Homo sapiens: one gene and its partners. The protein of the gene in region 1 interacts with the protein of each later gene in a pairwise test. Each region holds a gene or a part of one and is shown in the gene's direction. Other genes may lie near its edges. The genes, in order: CCDC89, LRRC45 and TSFM.

What was found.
Region 2: the proteins of CCDC89 (region 1) and LRRC45 interact in binary tests that used the Homo sapiens proteins (3 or more experiments, as listed by UniProt).
Region 3: the proteins of CCDC89 (region 1) and TSFM interact in binary tests that used the Homo sapiens proteins (3 or more experiments, as listed by UniProt).

Annotation. Positions count from the first base shown.
Region 1 is NC_000011.10:85,683,254-85,690,075, reverse strand, and holds CCDC89 (coiled-coil domain-containing protein 89), read left to right. Parts: upstream 1-3,880; 5' UTR 3,881-3,945; coding exon 3,946-5,070; 3' UTR 5,071-6,228; downstream 6,229-6,822.
Region 2 is NC_000017.11:82,026,294-82,031,754, forward strand, and holds the end of LRRC45 (leucine-rich repeat-containing protein 45), read left to right. Parts: intron 1-605; coding exon 606-718; intron 719-1,092; coding exon 1,093-1,151; intron 1,152-1,380; coding exon 1,381-1,458; intron 1,459-1,717; coding exon 1,718-1,853; intron 1,854-1,940; coding exon 1,941-2,018; intron 2,019-2,103; coding exon 2,104-2,215; intron 2,216-2,319; coding exon 2,320-2,390; intron 2,391-2,725; coding exon of another isoform or gene 2,726-2,752; exon of another isoform or gene 2,753-2,799; coding exon 2,800-2,892; intron 2,893-3,249; coding exon 3,250-3,342; intron 3,343-3,771; coding exon 3,772-3,945; intron 3,946-4,025; coding exon 4,026-4,173; intron 4,174-4,315; coding exon 4,316-4,512; 3' UTR 4,513-4,858; downstream 4,859-5,461. UniProt on the Homo sapiens protein: Component of the proteinaceous fiber-like linker between two centrioles, required for centrosome cohesion.
Region 3 is NC_000012.12:57,785,718-57,792,831, forward strand, and holds part of TSFM (elongation factor Ts, mitochondrial isoform 2 precursor), read left to right. Parts: intron 1-445; coding exon 446-574; intron 575-1,322; coding exon 1,323-1,445; intron 1,446-6,247; coding exon of another isoform or gene 6,248-6,310; intron 6,311-7,114. UniProt on the Homo sapiens protein: Associates with the EF-Tu.GDP complex and induces the exchange of GDP to GTP. It remains bound to the aminoacyl-tRNA.EF-Tu.GTP complex up to the GTP hydrolysis stage on the ribosome.

The DNA of each region.
Region 1 (6,822 bases):
CTTCAAGAATATCATTAGAATTAAGTGAGAGATGTACAAATAAATGCCCACTACCTAGAAGAGCTCTGTAAATGGTAGCTTTAAAAGGGAGGGAGGCATGGAAAGACTTAAAGATAAGTGGAGACGACTCATTGATCACCACAAGGGAGAGAATTGGTCACCTTGGATCTCTGGGAAGGGAATATATGGGATACTTTTAGGAGGGGAGCTAGAAAAAAAATGATTGAGCAAAGAAGACAACCACGGCAGAAAGGAACCAAAGTGATTACTAAACTAAGTTATTTGAGGACAGTGATCGTATTTATTTTATTAATATATTCTTAGCACCTAGCATTGCAAATAACCTTGCAAATGTTTACTGAATAAATGAATGAATATTGATTAGGATCTTATCAGATTCTTGGTCTTGATAAGTAATCTATAGATGTGTGTTATTTTAAATAATGTAAATATAAATTTAATAGAAATGTGTATTAAAATATATTTGCAAAAAAGAAATATAAGCTTTTTCAAATGTGGAAAATTTAGCTGAACATGGTGGTACATGCCTGTAGTCCTAGCTGCTTGGGAGGCTGAGGCAGGAAGATTGCTTGAGCCCAGGAATTCAAGACTGCAGTGAGCTATGATGACACTACTGCACTCCAGCTTGGGCAACAGAGACCCTGACTGGTAAAAAAACAAATGTGTATGTATCTTTTTTCCGTATTTTTCTGAATTCTTTTCCTCCTTTCAGGAAATATATTTTGTGAATTCACTTTATGATATCAGACAACCATATAATCAACAAATAAAATTTTCAATGTTTGTAAGACCCTTTTATTTAAGAGGACCATTCTAATTTTCTAGTCATTTGCCTTGAAAATAACTAGACGAACTCCATTTACGCATATGAAGCTTGAAATTTAAGGAAAAGGACAAGAGAAATGTGGGAAAATTACAAATAAGTTTAATTCACATTTTTAAAGTCTTTGGAATTCACTTTCACAAAACTTCAATATCCTACTGTTTATGTAGTTGTTAAAATTTCAGCTTAGGAAATTTCCCCAGTCTTCAATCTTGGTTTCCATATATAGACAAGAAATTCAGGATTTGAAACATGAGACCTTGATCTTTGACAGTGAGGGAAGAACCTGAAACTCTTCTTTCAGATTTGTTTCGCTCCCAGTGAAATCTGAAGCATTTAAAAATTCATCTCATATCTATAATGACACCCAGGGTTTTTCCTTATCATCATGACTTGGGAGATAGTAAATCTGATCACCAGAAACTGTGACCACAAGAATAGTCAACTCTTTTCCCTACCCTTAATTTTCACAGGATTGAAATCATCTGAATTTTAAGTTTTGTATTTTGCCTTTTTCAGTTGTATTTCTAACATAAGACTTTTCCATGCTATTAAAAATTACCTATAAATGTAATAAGTTCTAGTGGCTGTACAATATTTTTTGTATGAATATATCATAATTTTTGTAACCATTCCCTTTTTTTTTTGAAAACTTGGGTTTCCAACTTTTAGTTGTTACAAACCACACTACAATGAAAAGTTTTGAGCAAAATGTTTTCTTTCAGATTATTTCCTAAGCAAAGATCTCCGCAGAAGAATTACTAGTTCGGAAGCCATAAAAATATCTTAATTTCTCAGTACCTACTGTCAACTGACTTTCACCAACAGTTTAAGAGAGTGCCTATTTCAATACTCCTTTCTAGTCCTGGCTTGTCTTAAGAGAAAATTTTTTGACTAATTTGATACGTGAAATTATATCTTTTTTTTTTTTTTTTTTTTTTTGAGACGGAGTCTCGCTTTGTTGCCCAGGCTGGAGTGCAGTGGCGCGATCTCGGCTCACTGCAAGCTCCGCCTCCCGGGTTCACGCCATTGTCCTGCCTCAGCCTCCTGAGTAGCTGGGACTACAGGCGCCTGCCACCACGCCTGGCTAATTTTTTGTATTTTTTTGGTAGAGACGGAGTTTCACCGTGTTAGCCAGGATGGTCTCAATGTCCTGACCTCGTGATCCGCCTGCCTCGGCCTCCCAAAGTGCTGGGATTACAGGCGTGAGCCACCACACCCGGCCGAAATTATGTCTAATTTTAACTTGTATTTATTGGATCACTGTAGACGTTCAGTTCTTGGCCATTTTTGTGAATTTAATTGTTTATTTTTTAGATGTTAATGTTTCGTTGATATGTATAAAATATTTATTTAAAAAAGGTAGTGTCTGGGCTGGGTGCGATGGCTCATGCCTGTAATCTCAGCACTTTGGGAGGCTGAGGCGGGTGGATCATTTAAGGTCAGGAGTTCAAGACCAGCTTGACCAACATGGTTAAACTCCGTCTCTACTAAAAATACAAAAATTAGCCAGGTGTGGTTGTATGTAATTGTAATCCCAGCTACTCAGGAGACTGAGGCAGGAGAATTGCTTGAGCCCGGGAGGCGGAGGTTGCAGTGAATCGAGATCGTACCACTGCACTCCAGCCTGGGCGATGGAGGGAGACTCTGTCTCAAAAAAAAAAAAAAAAAAAAAAAAAAAGTAGTGTCTGTCATATTAGGGATATTTTTCTCAATTTGATTTTTACCTTCAACATCCACTTAATACACATTTATCTGAATCTCCCCCATGTGCCAGGCACTAGTCTAATCATCAAGGATGAAATAGACACAGTCCCTGCCCTTAAGGATCTTACAGTCTAACAGAGGGAAGCTGGCAGATAAACAGTGACTGCAATAAAATTTTCACATCCTCCACCAGAAGTACAAATAGCTATAGCGGATGCACTAAAAGATGTGAGTGACCAATTGGACATGTAGGGGCCAGGAATAGGCTTCAGAGACGATTCTTAACTAAGAATAAAAAGCTTTACTAGAGTGACAAGGGACAAAGTAGGAAAGGCATTCCAAGTAGAGGAACACCTAAAGATAGGGCGAGAGAGCTGGTTAGTGGATTTGGGTTTGGCTTCAATATTTGGGTTTGAGGAGTAAAATGTCAAGAAAATCCAGTGGAAGAAGGGGCTGGAGAGACCTCAGAAGTCACATAATTTAAAAAATTATACATAACTTTTTGAGTAAGCTTTCCCTTTCTGATCTTACATAATGTTTAAGATAAAAAAAAAATCCTTCCTAGCCCCAGAGATTTGATGTTTACCTTCATTTTCTTCTAGTTTCTGTTTACATTTAACTAATCTATCAGGAGTTGACTTTGGCATATAATGGCAAGCTTCATTTGAATCTTATTTTTTCTGTTTTAATGTTTATCTGTGTGGTTCACTAAGCTTCTTTCTGTAACCTTATTTTGCTAATGGGTAAAAACAGGGGGTGTTAAATATCTAATAAAGAGTATTTATGCCCAGGTGGGGACAATGCTAAGAACAACAAAAGAAATTTCACTGGTGTTTTCTATTTTAATACTTAAATACCAAAAGGGAGCTGTGCCAAACATCACGGGTGCAGATATGCAGGCTTTTAGGGTCCTGGCTCTCAGAATACCACTACTACTTTGTATTCATAGACTGAAATTTTTTGAGGAGCCAACCATGTTTCCACAAACAGTAATTTATTCAAACGATAACTGAAGAGGGGAGAGGGAGGATAAATATATCATTGCCTGCTTCATTTGTTTACTACTACCAGAAATTAGGTGGAGTCAGGCTTCCTCCCCTGATGCTGGCTGGAGATTGAGTGGGGTTGGCATCTCTGTGCTGTACAGGCCAGACACTGAGACAGTTGACAACTGAGAGCTGTGATTGGTTAGAAAGGCAAAAGTAACCCGACCAGATTGGCTCTGGACTCCCCCAGATTCCCCTGTTGTTACTTCATAGCATTCTGAAGACCTGTCCACCAATTACAGGGCTCCTTACTGGAAAAACCAACTGCTGGGGAGTGCCAAGAGTCCCTAGCAACACCCTGCAGCGTTTGAAATCTGAGGGGAAAAGACTGTAGTCAGCCCTTAGTGGATGAGAGCGCCTATGCTCCAGAAACAGCAGGCTCCCAGGATGGACACCCCGCCCCCTGAAGAACGCTTAGAGAAGCAAAATGAAAAACTGAACAACCAGGAAGAGGAGACGGAGTTTAAGGAACTGGACGGTCTGAGGGAAGCCTTGGCAAACCTCCGGGGACTGTCAGAGGAGGAGAGGAGCGAGAAGGCTATGCTTCGCTCCCGCATTGAAGAGCAGTCCCAGCTCATCTGCATCCTGAAGCGGAGGTCAGATGAGGCCCTGGAGCGCTGCCAGATCCTAGAGCTGCTCAATGCAGAGCTGGAGGAGAAGATGATGCAGGAGGCTGAGAAGCTCAAGGCCCAGGGTGAGTACAGTCGGAAACTAGAGGAACGCTTTATGACCCTAGCAGCCAACCACGAGTTGATGCTCCGCTTCAAGGATGAATACAAGAGTGAGAACATCAAGCTGAGGGAGGAGAATGAGAAGCTGAGGCTGGAGAATAGCAGCCTCTTCAGCCAGGCTCTGAAGGATGAGGAGGCGAAAGTATTACAGCTCACAGTCCGGTGTGAGGCCCTCACTGGGGAGCTAGAAACGCTGAAGGAGAGGTGTGCTCAGGATGCCTGCCAGGCACAGGCGCGCGAGAAGGAGCTGCTGGAGCTACAGAGCCAGCAGGCCTGCACCCACACCAAGGAGACAGAACAGCTGCGCAGCCAGCTGCAGACCCTCAAGCAGCAGCACCAGCAGGCTGTGGAGCAGATAGCTAAGGCAGAGGAGACACACAGCAGCCTGAGCCAGGAGCTGCAGGCCAGGCTGCAGACCGTCACTAGAGAGAAAGAGGAGTTGCTGCAGCTGTCCATTGAAAGGGGCAAAGTGCTTCAGAACAAACAGGCAGAGATCTGCCAGCTTGAGGAAAAGTTGGAGATAGCAAATGAAGACAGGAAGCATGCGCTGGAGCGGTTTGAGCAAGAGGCAGTGGCTGTGGACAGCAACTTGAGAGTCAGGGAGCTTCAGCGCAAAGTAGATGGGATCCAGAAGGCCTACGATGAACTCAGGCTGCAGTCTGAAGCCTTCAAAAAGCACAGCTTGGATCTTTTAAGCAAGGAGAGAGAACTCAATGGCAAACTCCGCCATCTCTCTCCATAGGGAAGTTTCTGCTTCCTCTGGCCTGCAATTCAGAATTCAAATATTTGCGTCTTAGCATTATGGCAAGAGTAAAGATGATATCCCATTTATTATACTTTCAAGCACAAAAGGCAACTCAAAGAAAAGCTACTTTACTATGATATTGTTGTTATTATTGTAAAGCCATTATTAATTTTCATTTCTACACCTAGAATACACAAGATTTGCCAGATTTCCTTCTGTGCCTTAGAAATCTTAAATTTACTAGTAGTATCTTCTCCTACCCATAAGTTATTAATTCTCAACCTCAGATATCTTCATTTATGTTAGGATTTTAAATTAGCAGCTTCTATGATTTAAGTCAATCTAAGTGCAGTGAGATGTGCCATTGTGAAAAATAATTAGCACAATTACCCACTGTAGATAGTTAGGCTTATAGTCTCCCATAGTTGAGATTGTAAGCAAACATGTATCAGCATAATAGCATGAATGCTTTGCAGAAAAAAAAAAGTGTCTGACTTTATTTTATTTTGCGCTAGCTTGGAAAATGATTGAGATCAAGTTCTTTAACAAAGAAGGTCAATTTTATTCTGTATGAGCAATATGATTCAAATAAGTTATACAAAACAACTTTTATTTTTTCTGCAAGCTTAGATAATATTCCATTTTTTGGTTTTCTCTTTAAAAAGAGGATTTAGATGTGCAATAATGCAAATATCAGTAGCTTAATTTAATATTGCACGATATGCTAATAGACAATTAGACAATTTGGGGTAACAAATCATAGCAGACGTGATCTATAGAGTAACTCAGAAATTGTTTTGTTTCTATTAGCATATTTTTTGTAATTAAGATTTTCCTTTTTTAAAAAAATCTAAGCTGAACGTGTGTATGTATGCTTGCAGCATTTTTGTAGTAATACCTACATTTTGTAAGAATAGTTATAAAAACATGATATATATATATGTAAAGTTCTTAAAAAAGTTCTCAAAGGTAGTTATATTTTCTTATCTTCCTGTAATTAGGTATTGATATATAAACATTATTATGAATACCTCTCAAAATAGATTGTAATGTAATATTTTTCTCACCCATTTTGCTGAAGGCTACCAAGTTACATAATGAATTTACTTAAAAAATATGACTTGGTGCCTTTTTAGTAAAACCATTTCCAAGCAAGTGTTACCTTGCCTCAGGTAATTTTTTACACCCATTTTTTCACACTTCTATTAAGATTATGCTATTAAATACAAACTTTTCTCATCAAAATAGAAACCACACTGCTAGCTTCAAAGGACTATTTACTTCCTTCTACAGGTTACCAAGAATCAGAATATAGGAGCTAAGTTAATCATGGATATCCTTTATTGAGCCCATACTATTTATCATTGCGCTGAAGCAATTTGGATGAATTACTTTATTTAATTCTTAGGACTATTCAAGAAGGAAAGCGTGTTCATTTCTATTTTAAGGAAGAGGAGACTGGTTTTGGTAATTTTGCTTAAGGCCAGTTGGTCACTGGGGGAGCTGGATTTTGATGACTACAGCACACTGAAAGATAATTTTTGGCGACCAAGTGCCAGGTGCTGGGGTAGGCACTAAGAAGAAGCATAAAGAAGCATTTTTACTGCCCTGGAAGAGCCCCCATACAGTCTAAGGGCAAAAATAATAATAATAATTATTATTATTATTATTATTGTTATTATATACTGTGATCACAGAGGGAAAACATAGGCAGCATCTAGCCCTGCCTGGTGGTAAGGGTTGGGTTGG
Region 2 (5,461 bases), on another chromosome or scaffold:
CCCCAGGATGGCCCTTGCCTTTTGCGGTGGAGCAGCTCCCACCACCTCTGCCCCACATGTGCACGCGCTCCCCAACACCAGGCGGCTCTTGCTCACAGCCCGAACCCCACAAAGCACTTCCACCCCCATGCACTGAGGGGGCACCCCTGACTTGCCGGGTGAGACGCTGCCCCACACGGCATAGATTCCCAAGCAGCCAGCCGCTGGGTGCAGGGCTGGTGGCCACCAGCTACTCCTGAGGCTAAGCAGCCCCGGGGTGACACAGCTCCTTTGTGTGTGTGTGTGTGTGTGTGTGTGTGTGTGTGTGACTGAGTTTCACTCAGTCACCCAGGCTGGAGTGCAGTGGCGCAATCTCGGCTCACTGCAACCTCCACCTCCCGGTTCAAGCGATTTTCCTGCCTCAGCCTCCCGAGTACCTGGGATTACAGGTGTGCGCTACCATGCCCAGCTACTTTTTTGTATTTTTAGTACAGATGGGGTTTCACCATGTTGGCCAGGCTGGTCTCGAACCCCTGACCTCAGGTGATCCACCCACCTCGACCTCCCAAAGTGCTGGGATTCCAGGCATGAGCCCCTGTGCCCAGCTGACACAGCTCCTTCTGCAGAGCAAGCCATGGGCCACAGCCAGGACCGGCTCACCACCTTCCAGGAGAACCAAGCCCGCACTCACGTCCTCAGCAAGGAGGTCCAGCACCTCCGGGAGGAGAAGTCCAAGCAGGTGAGGATGGCGCCTTCACTGACCTTGGAGCTGCTTATGGCTGGAGGGCCTGGCCACGTCCTTCCTCCCTCAGCCCCGTGGTCTGCCCATCTTCCCTTCCTCGGGGCCCTGGAGCCTCTCTGAGTGGCTGGTACCAGGAAGGAGGGGCGGCCTCCTGGTCTGATCTGCAGGTGGACTTCCTTGGGGAGCTGGCGTCTGAGCCCTGAGGCCTCGCTCTGCAGGGGCCACCCTTCCTGTGAAGGAGACAGGGCACCGTGGGTGGAACCCTCCGCTGCCTTGCCACATTGGTGGGCGCTGGCTCTCCTTCCCCCTGAGAAGGTCAGGTGGACAGGCTGCAGGTGCCCTGACAGGGCTGCGGCTGTCTCTGTCCCCAGTTCCTCGACTTGATGGAGACTATTGATAAGCAGCGAGAAGAGATGGCCAAGAGCAGCAGGTGAGCGGGCCCAGGGCAGGGGCAGGGTGAGGCTTCAGGGATCAGGTCCTGGCTCAGACTCAGATGGGACCAACCTGAGCCCACGAGTGAGGCCACGAGGAGGTCGCTGGAGGCTCAGTGCCCAGGCGACCATAGATGCTTAAGGAACAGCAGCAGCTACCGAGGCCAGAGGGGTATGGGAGCGCTCTGGGGTTTGGGTTACTCTCTGCACCCTCCTCTCTGCCCACAGGGCGTCGGCAGCCCGTGTAGGGCAGCTTCAGGAAGCCCTGAATGAGAGGCACTCCATCATCAACGCTCTCAAGGCCAAGTAAGTGGGGGGTGGCCTCAGGATACTTCAGAGACGTGCCCACAGGGCAGAGAAAGGTGGTGTGAACCTGTGTGCAAGTCCTGTTTGCAAAGCAGAGGTGGGAAATGGTGAGGCTGGGGCAGTAACCCAGAAGCCTTCCTGGAGGAGGCGGGTGCTGGCTGGGGTTGACTAGGTGCCCAGCAACAGTGAAAGCAGCGAGGCCTTTATAAGGCAAGTGAAACTCCAACCGGGGCGGGGGTGCTGCCCCTCCTTTCTGCAGGCTGCAGATGACAGAGGCCGCCCTGGCTCTGTCGGAGCAGAAGGCCCAGGACCTGGGGGAGCTCCTGGCCACAGCGGAGCAGGAGCAGCTGAGCCTGTCACAGAGGCAGGCCAAGGAGCTCAAGCTGGAGCAGCAGGTGGGTGGGCAGGGCTTGAGAGGGGTGGGCCAAGGGGTGCGTGGCGGCTTCGTGACCCTCACTACCCATACCCCGTTCCCCTCCCAGGAAGCTGCAGAGCGGGAGTCTAAACTCCTCAGAGACTTGTCTGCTGCCAATGAAAAGAACCTGCTTCTGCAAAACCAGGTAGCTGTGGTGGATGGAGCCAGGGAGCCCAGGGTGGGCGCGGCAGGGCTGGGCTGCAGCTTCCCTCCCTGGTGCCGGCTTTCAGGTAGACGAGTTGGAGCGGAAGTTCAGGTGTCAGCAGGAGCAGCTGTTCCAGACCAGGCAGGAGATGACCAGCATGTCAGCTGAGCTGAAGATGCGGGCCATCCAGGCCGAGGGTGGGCACGGGCAGGCCTGCTGTGGAGGGGCCTGGGGATGGGCACCGGGGGACGGGGGCCCCCAGGGGATGCTCACGCATACTCTGCCCACCCTGGGCTTCCAGAGCGCCTGGACATGGAGAAGAGAAGATGCAGACAGAGCCTGGAGGACTCCGAAAGCCTGCGCATCAAGGAGGTGCCCTCTTCGTTGGCCTCTAATGCGCCTCAGTCTCTGGTCTTGGTGTCACGCAGGTGTCCCCAAAGCACACACCTGGTGGGAGCTTCCCTTGCCAACCTTGGGTCACTGGGTGGCCGTATTTTGCCAGCCTGAGCGGATGTCAGACCCAGAACCTCCTATTGGGGGCGGCGGGGGGACCCCGGCAATGTCTGAGCCGTAGTACAGGCTGCCGTTGAAGAGACACCAAGGCCCACTCGTTCAGGGTGTGCATGCTGCGGTAGTTTCCTGCTAGGCCATCTGAGGCAGTGCTTTCTCAGAATGAACAAGGTTCTCAAGAGACACCTGCCTTTCAGGGTGGGGAGTCCGTGAGGAGAAGGTAGGGAGGCCCGCTCTCCACTCTGGCCCCACAATCCCTGCCCCTGAGCAGGTGGAGCATATGACCCGTCACCTGGAGGAGAGTGAGAAGGCCATGCAGGAGCGGGTGCAGAGGCTGGAGGCGGCGCGGCTGTCCCTGGAGGAGGTGAGTGCCCACCAGGCAGGGCCAAGCTCTGCCTTAGTCCTGGGCTGAACAAGGCAGGGGCCCCTGGTGTTCGCCGCCTCAGGACCAGAGACCTCTTCCTGTTCCCAGAGGCTCATAGGCCCCACCTTGGGGACCCACCCACCAGTGTGCCCAAGAAGCTAAAGGGACTTAGGTGGCATTCGGACTTCCTTGGCCTTAGGAACCTTGCCCAGCGAGCTAGGTGGCAGAGCAGCTGCGTGGCCCTCAGGAGGCTGGCAGAGAGGAGCCCCCCTGGCTGGGGTTGGCTGGATGGGCCAGAGAGAGAAGGGCCCTGGGCCAGGGACAGGAGAACGGGCTGGCAGGTGGCCATCTGTGCAGGAGCTGAGCCGAGTGAAAGCAGCGGCACTCAGCGAGCGTGGCCAGGCTGAGGAGGAGCTGATCAAGGCCAAGAGCCAGGCCCGCCTGGAGGAGGTGAGCCACACATGTCCGCCACCCTCCGGGGGAGCCAGGCTGCCCGGCATTGCGGCCCGCATGCAGACTCCAGAGCTTCGGTCTGAGTGGGGAGGCGGGAGTGTGGTGTTGAGGTCAGATGAGCACACCCTGGACACTGGTGGGTCCGCTTCAGCCTTGGATCAGGGCCTGAGACGGTGGAGAGGTTTGGCCCATCTCTGCAGCCTGTGACTACACGCATGGATGGATGGGAGGGGTGGTGTGACCGAAGAGGGAGGAGGAGAGCCCAGAGGGCATCTGGAGGAGGTGGCTGCCAGGGGAGCGGGTTCAGAGTCATAGTAACTAGAGCAGCCAGTCCTGCAGAGAGGTGGGGTCGTGCCCGTGCAGACATTCCCTCAGCTGAGCTCAGGCTGAGCCCCTCATGCTTCGTGGCGGCCCCTGTGCTCACAGCAACAGCGCCTGGCTCACCTGGAGGACAAGCTGAGACTGCTGGCGCAGGCACGGGACGAGGCGCAGGGCGCTTGCCTACAGCAGAAGCAGGTGGTGGCCGAGGCCCAGACCCGGGTCAGCCAGCTGGGCCTGCAAGTTGAGGGCCTGCGGCGGCGCCTGGAAGAGCTGCAGCAGGTAGGCGGGGCTCCGGTGGGGGGCCCCGGGCGTGCTAGCCCCCAACCCTCGCCTCACTCCCCAGCCTTCGTGCCTGGCAGGAGCTGAGCCTCAAGGACCAGGAAAGGGTGGCCGAGGTGAGCAGGGTGCGCGTGGAGCTGCAGGAGCAGAACGGCCGGCTGCAGGCGGAGCTGGCGGCTCAGGAGGCGCTGAGGGAGAAGGCGGCGGCCCTGGAGCGCCAGCTGAAAGGTGAGCCAGACCCTTGTCCTCCCGCCGCCCACTGGTGGGACGTGAGGCCAGCCAGAGAGCGGGGCTGGCCAGGTCTCCCGTGCTGAGGCCGTGCCACGGTGCGCTGGGGCTGCGTCCGCTCACTGCGCTCCTTGCCCTGCAGTGATGGCGAGCGACCACCGAGAGGCGCTGCTGGACAGGGAGAGCGAGAACGCGTCTCTCCGGGAGAAGCTGCGGCTCCGGGAGGCGGAGATCGCCCGCATCCGGGACGAGGAGGCCCAGAGGGCGAGCTTCCTGCAGAACGCCGTCCTGGCTTACGTGCAGGCGTCCCCCGTGAGGACCCTGAGCCCCCCAAAGTGAGACAGGCCGGGAGGACCCGGGCGCAGTAGGAGTGCATCAGGCGGCGCCCGAGATGGACCAGGGGCTGCGTCCCGCCCGCGCCGCCTCTTTGAGACCCGGGTCGTCTGTTCCACGCGGCGGTTGCGGCGACTGTTGGTGGTGTCGCGGCTGCGGGGGAACCCCGTGGGAGGCGCCTGGGAAGGGCTCCCTACCGGCCCCTTCTTCCCGGTCGACGCCACGTGGGAGCACACCGGGAAGGGGTCCCGCGGGCGCGTCTCCCCCTCGCCTTTTGCGATGTCACCGTGAACGCTGCGGCCGCCTGCGCGCGGCGGGGTTTGGAAATACAGCGCGTTTGCACTTTGTGATACATTCTGGCCCCGCCTCTCCCTCCAAACGCGCGACCGTCCGTGCCTCTCCAAACGCGCGGCCCTCTGCCCCCAGCCCTGCAGGGAGGGCCTGCCGGGGTGCGGCTGTTCGCCCCTCCTCGCCGCTGCCTTGAAGGGACGGGAGGGCCGCGGGGGCTGTCCGTCTGGGGGTTCGGGCGGCTGCAGACCCCGGAGTTCCCAGCTGGCTCCCGGCGGCAGGGGGCGGGTCCCCGAGAAAGCGCAGCGCGCGGAGCCCTCCCCGCCGGGTCCAGGTCGCTGGGCTCTCTCCGGCCTGCGCTGCGCCCCGAGGGACCCGTAGGAGACCCCCGGGCCGGGGTCGCGCTGGAGGCGGGGGCGCCGCAGCTCGCGCAGCTCTGCCCGGGTTCGGGCGGCCCCGCCCCGCCAGCCGCGCGGCCGGGCGCCCCCCGCCCGCCCCCGCCCCCGCCCCCCGCCCCCCGCCGGCCGCGCTCGGCTGTCTCCGCGCCCGGCGCTCGGCGGCGCTCGGCTGTCTCCGGCCGATCGCTCGGCGCTCGGGTCCGCGGCCGCTGCGGCGCCGGGCATTTCTCCGCAGCTCGGCTCGCGGCCGCGCCCGCCGCCGCCCGGCC
Region 3 (7,114 bases), on another chromosome or scaffold:
TATACTTTAATAGGACTGGCAGCACAGACGTTTTCTTTACACTAGCATTGCCACAAACATGTAGGTAATATGTTGCCCTACAATGTTAGGAGGACTACCGTGTCACTAGACAATAGGAATTTTTCAGCTCCATTATAATCTTAGGGACCGTCATCATATATGCAGTCCGTCATTGTCCAAAATATCGTTATGTGGTGCGTAACTGTATAAAGAAAATACAACTGTGTGCCCCATAGGGTTGTTGTGAAGATTAGATTCATCCAAGGCACCAGTTATAATAATACCTGGTATTTGGCATTTAGTGGTAGACTGCCAGTAAATGATAGATTACTTTAGTTTCTGTTAGAGAATTTAGAGAATCAGGAAACCTGAGTATATCTTAGAACTACATTTAGTGCTAAATTCTGTGACTTTGTTGTCTGCTCTTTTTCCTCTCAATTTACAGGCAGAGATCTGGCTCCACAAGGAGGCCCAGAAGGAGGGCTGGAGCAAAGCTGCCAAGCTCCAAGGGAGGAAGACCAAAGAAGGCCTGATTGGGCTGTTGCAGGAAGGAAACACAACTGTATTAGTAGAGGTGAGTTGTTGGAAATTCCAGATACCAAGAACAGCTGTCCCTTGGGTGTAAAGCTTGTAGTAGGCCCTAAAGGGGCCTGTTCTTGAAGAAGAGATCTGTTTAAGAACCATAAAGCGTAGTTGAAGTTAAACTCATGAAACCCTGGGTATTAGTTACGAATTCGTTTAAGTATAGAAATGTACTGGTGTGTTGATGAGAAATGGCCTGACAGTCTAGAATATTACTCCTGAATGTGAGTCTGGCACAGGCTTACACCTTGTCACTGATTGTTTCCTGGAACAGTTAGATTACAAGTTAATTATATTAATTGTTGCTGAATAGAGAGTAGGTATTTTAGAGGAGGTTTGGGGGCCATAATTGGTGAAGAGTCAGATGTGGATTAGTTTAGAGTGAGAGATGGGGATAAACAAGATAATAGCATAAGTGGTTTGGAGTTGGGATGGCTGGAGAATGAGGTGATGATGGTGTGCAGACATAGGTAAGTGGTGAACTTGTGGTGAGTCCTTCAGGACATTATTGAACCATCTTCTGAATATACAGGCTATTGCTAACTCACTGGCCCAACATAAATCACTTCATTCTGTTCCAGGCTAGGAGAGGAAGCGTAGCTTTAAAATTTTGGAGTCATTTTTTTTCCGTTGAGTCTGTAGCTTGTTCTATCAGTATCTTGATTTATTCTCCAGCCTTAAGGCACTTTTGGAAATTATCATTAAACAGCTTATACAGCTATATCAATTTGTTCCCACAGGTAAACTGTGAGACAGATTTTGTTTCTAGAAATTTAAAATTTCAACTGTTGGTCCAGCAAGTAGCCCTTGGAACCATGATGCATTGTCAGACCCTAAAGGATCAACCCTCTGCATACAGTAAAGTAAGTTTGGGATTTGTCTCCAGTGTGCTGAATTTGCTGTCCTCATTGGGTCTTTTGCTGTTCCTATTGTAGACATTCTCATGTCTCATTCTGTTACTTCACATCTCTGCTTAAATGCTATCTCTTTGCATAGAATTACCCTTCCCCCGTTGCTATATCCCCGTGTCATGCTGCATTTAAAATTTTTTATTATGGTGCTTATATATTACATTTTAATTTATCTGTGTGTTGTCTATCTTCCCCAGCAGAATGTAAGCTTTATGAGGCAGGGAATTTGTCTTTTCACTGTTGTATCTCTGGTGAAAGAGAATTGGGCCCACTACTTAGTTGGAGCTCAGTAAATCTTTGTCAGATGAATGAATGAATGATTGAATGCATGCATGCCAGTGAAATGGAGTTAGCCAGATCAAGTGAAGCCATTTGAGGCTTTGTGTTCAGAAATTTGGAATGGTCTTAGGAAAGAATTTCTAAATAAAGAGATTGGAGCCAGGTGTGGTGGCTCACCCCTGTAATCCCAGCACTTTGGGAGGCCGAGGCAGGCAGATCACCTGAAGTCGAGAGTTCAAGACCAGCCTGACCAACATGGAGAAACCCGTCTCTACTAAAAATACAAAATTAGCTGGGCGTGGTGGCGCTTGCCTGTAATCCCAGCTACTTGGGAAGTTGAAGCAGGAGAATCGCTTGAACCCGGGAGGTAGAGGCTGCAGTGAGCCGTTGTACTCCCCCCGGGCAATAAGAGCAAAACTCCGTCTCAGAAAAAAAAAAAGAGAGAGAGATTGGAAAAGACATGGTTTAGGAAAATAAGCATATTCTTATCCATAGAGGGATCAAGGAAAGGAATTATGTCATTCTGCCTTTGACTCAGCCTTATTGCCAAGGCAAAGATGAACCAACCACTCACAGTAATTTTTTTGAGTTTATTACCAACTTTTTTTATCTTCTTTATCCTTCTCTTGAGATGTCTTGGTAAATGTTAATTATTATTGGCATTACATAGTCATATGGAAAACAATGTTGAGATTATTTTTTTTAATTGTATTGAGTAGGTAAGTCACTTGAACTAGAAATTTTAGCTTTGATTTTGCCAGTAAACACCAGTGTACCCTTTTTTTTTTTATTTTTGTTTTTGTTTTTTGAGATGAAGTCTTGCTCTGTCACTCAGGCTGGAGTGCAGTGGTGCAATCTTGGCTCACTGCAACCTCCACCTCCTGGGTTCAAGCAATTCTGCATCAGACTCCCGAGTAGCTGGGACTACAGGCGCCCGCCACCACACACGCCTAGTATTTGTATTTTTTGTAAAGACAGAGTTTCACCATGTTGGCCAGGCTGGTCTTGAACTCCTGACCTCAAGTGATTCGCCCGCCTCCGCCTCCCAAAGTGCTGGGATTACAGGCGTGAGCCACCATGCCTGGCCCCAGTGTACTCTTTTTCCAGATTTGCCATTTATTAACATTTTGCTGTATTTGCTTTATCACTTCTTTTTTTCTTTAAGAGACAGATCTGGCTTTCTTGCCCAGCCTGGAGTGCAGTGGCACAATCATTGTTCACTGCTGCCTCAAATTCCTGGGCTCAAGTGATCTTCCCACCTCAGACTCCTGAGTAGCTGGGACTACATGTGCACACCACTATGCTAGGCTCATTTTTAAGTTTTTTGTAGAGACAGTCTTGCCATCTTGCCCAGGCTGGTCTCAAACCTCTGGGCTCAAGAAATCCACCTGCTTTGGCCTCCCAAAGTGTTGGGATTATAGGCTTGGGTCACTACAGCTGGCCCTATCACTTTTTATATACATGTTATCATCGCCCTTTTTTTTTTTTTTTTTTGAGATGGAGTCTCTCTGTCACCCAGGCTGGAGTGCAATGGTGCCATCTCGCTCACTGCAACCTCTCCCTCCCAGTTCAAGCGATTCTTCCACCTCAGCCTCCCAAGTAGCTGGGATTACAGGCACCTGCCATCATGCCCGGCTAATTTTTTTTGTATTTTTGTAGAGACGGGAGTTTCACCATGTTGGCCAGGCTGGTCTTGACTCCTGACCTCAGGTGATCTGCCCACCTGGGCCTCCCAAAGTGCTGGGATTACAGGCGTGAGCCACTGCACCCGGTCATCATCACTGTTTAAAAAAAATCTTTTTGTAAGTATGTTGCAGACATCAGGATCCTTTATTCCTTCAGCATGTATCTCGTAAAAACAAGGACATTGTTATATAACCACAGGACAGTGATCACATTTAGGATTTTTTTTTCTTTGAGACGGAGTGCAGTGTTGTGATCTCAGCTCACTGCAACCTTCACCTCCTGGGTTCGAGCAATTCTTATGCTTCAGCCTCCTGAGTAGCTAGGATTATAGGCATGCATTACTACTTCCAGCTAATTTTTTTGTGTTTTTAGTAGAAATGGGGTTTTGCCATGTTGGTCAGGCTGGTCTCGCACTCCTGACCTCAGGTGATCTGCCCGCCTTGGCCTCCCAGAGTGCTGGGATTACAGGCGTGAGCCACCGCACCCAGCCAAAATGTGTTAGTTTTAGTAGTTGTCATTCTACTGTTAGAAATAAATTTCCCTTCTCATTTTTATTTAGTGATTTATTCAGCACTAACATTGACTCGTGGGTTCTTATTTTATACAATAAGTTATAACTCATTATTCGTTTTGATGCTCAAATTATCTGCGGATTTGATCAATGCAAGCTGACTGTAATGTCCTTTGATATGCCCTTATTATTTTCTGAGTATTTTCTTACTTTTTGGCTTTTTTGTTTATTCTTATCTTTTGGGTTTATGTCATACTTTCCTTTCCCCAACTGTGGAATGGGCCACTTCTTCAAGGAGTCCTGGTCCTTTTTAGTTGGGGAATGGTTTTTAGAAATCAAGATTTGAATGTTAGGTGTGCTGATTTCTTTCTTTCTTTTTTTTTTTTTTTTTTTTTGAGACAGAGTGTTGCTGTGTAGCCCAGGCTGGAGTGCAGTGGCGCGATCTTGGCTCGCTGCTACCTCTGCCTCCTGGGTCCCGGTTCAAGCAGTTCTCCTGCCTCAGCCTCCCGAGTAGCTGGGATTACAGGCACGTGCCACCATACCCAGCTAATTTTTGTATTTTCAGTAGAGACAGGGTTTCACCATGTTGGGCAGGCTGGTCTTGAACTCCTGACCTCGTGATCCACCCATCTTGGCCTCCCAAAGTGCTGGGATTACAGGCGTGAACCACTGCGCCTGGCCAGGTGTGCTGATTTCTACTGAGATGTCATTTGTTCTTCGAGCAGACAGTGCAGGTGTATGTGCTGTGTGCGTGTGGTTCAATCCTTCCTTTTTCATAGCAACTTCAATATGTTTACTGTTTTTAGTTATGTACTCATATGTACTAAGTGTTACAATATATATACAAAATTGTTTCAGAATTGCTACCCCTGACCACTGCAAATAACAAAACTACTAAGGAGTTCAAGATTTATTTGTAGTTCTTTTTGTCTTTACATTGAAGTTAGGTGGTCAAATGACTCCGTTTAGTTATTTGGATTTTTTTTTTCCTTCTGTGAGCTTATGTTACTCATTTGAAATATAGTTTTATATTTCTTTGTAGTCAGTATTTATTTTCACCCCAAGTATGTGTTGATTTAATTTTATTTTAATTTTATTTTTTAAATGTGTGTTTTTTTTTTTGGCTGGGCACAGTGGCTCATGCCTGTAATTCCAGCACTTCGGGGTTTTTTGTTTGTTTTTTAAATCTTTTTTATATTAATAGAGATGAGGTTTCACCATATTGGCCAGGCTGGTCTCAAACTCCTGGCTTCAAGTGATCTGCCTGACTTGGCCTCCTCAAAGTGCTGGATTATGGGCATGAGCCACGGCACTGGGCCAGATTTTTTTTTTTTTTTTTTAAGATGGAGTTTCACTCTCATTAGCCAGGCTGGAGTGCAATGGCATGATCTCAGCTCACTACAGCCACCGCCTCCTGGGTTCAAGTGATTCTCCTGCCTCAGCCTCCTGAGTAGCTGAGATTATAGGTGCCCGCCACCACACCTGGCTAATTTTTGTATTTTTAGTAGAAATGGGGTTTCACCATGTTGGCCAGGCTGGTCTCGAACTCCTGACCTTAGGTGATCCACCCGCCTCAGCCTCCCAAAGTGCTGAGATTACAGGCGTGGGCCACCGCGCCCGGCCGGCCAGGTTCAATTTTATTTTTGAATACATAAGATACATTAAGAAAGTCCTCAAAGTTAAAACTGTCAAAAAAAAAGTATGCTCAGAGGAGTCTTACTGCTTCTCTCCCTTCTACCCCGTTCCTATCCATCCCTTTATTTAGATAACCAGTGTCATTGGATTGTGGTTATCCTTTCAGTATTTCTTTTTGCAAAAATAAGCATATTTATACAAATAGTTCTTTGTTGCACAGATAGTAGTATAATATGCATATACACTTATAATCTGCTTTTTTCACTTAATAATATGTCCTGGAAATACTCCATAGCAATTCATGAAGGTCATCCTTTTTATTTTTTCCAACTACATAGTATTCTGTTGTGTGGATGTGCTATAGTTTAATCTCCTGCTATGTTTGGGCATTTAGGCTGTTTTTAAAATTTTCTGATTAGAAATAATTGTTCAATGAATAATCTTGTGCAGTATTATTGGAAGTATATCATCAAGGTGAATTCATAGAAATAGGATTTCAGGGTCAAAGGATAAATGCATATGTAGTTTTATTAGATACTACAACTTCACACCATTGGATTTGTACCATTTTGCATTCCCATCAAAAATGTGCAAATCTAGCTCTAACATTTTATGATTTTATGAAAATATTGTTCTTGGCCAGGTGCAGTGGCTCACGCCTGTAAACCTAGCACTTTGGGAGGCTGAAGCAGGTGGATCACTTGAGGTCAGGAGTTCAAGACCAGCGTGGCCAACATGGTGAAACCCTGTCTCCACTAAAAAAGATATAAAAATTTGCCAGGCATGGTGGCGCATGCCTGTAGTCCCATCTACTCGGGAGGCTGAGGCAGGAGGATCGCTTGAACCCGGGAGGTGGAGGTTGCAGTAAGCTGAAATCATGCCACCGCACTCCAGCCTGGGCGGCAGAGCGAGACTCCATCTCAAAAAAAAGAAAAAACTGTTCTTGGCCAGGTGCAGTGGCTTACGCCTGTAATCCCAACACTTTGGGAGACTGAAGCAGGAGGATCTCTTAAGCTAAGAGTTCAAGACCAGCCTGAGCAACATAGGGAAACCCCATCTCTATATTTAAAAGAAAAAGAAAATAATTGTTCTTGATTTCTAGGAAATTACATTCTAGGAAGTTAGGCTGGAGGATGAGAGTGGAATGTAATTGGGGGTGGTGCAGTGATAGAATAAAATGTTTATAAAGATGGAACTGTTACCAATTTTTAACATTCTTGCCTTTATGAAAATATTGTCTACACTTAGTTGTCTTAAAGAATGTTTTCTTTCTTTCTTTTTTTTTTTTGAGATGGAGTCTCAATTCTGTTTCCCCGGCTGGAGTGCATTGGCATAATCTGAGCTCAGTGCAACCTCCGCCTCCCAGGTTTAAGCGATTCTCACGTCTCAGGCTCCCCAGTAGCTGGGATTACAGGCGTGTGCCACCATGCCCAACTAATTTTTGTATTTCGTTGGAGACGGGGTTTCACCATGTTTGCCAGGCTGGTCTCAAACTCCTGACCTCAGGTGA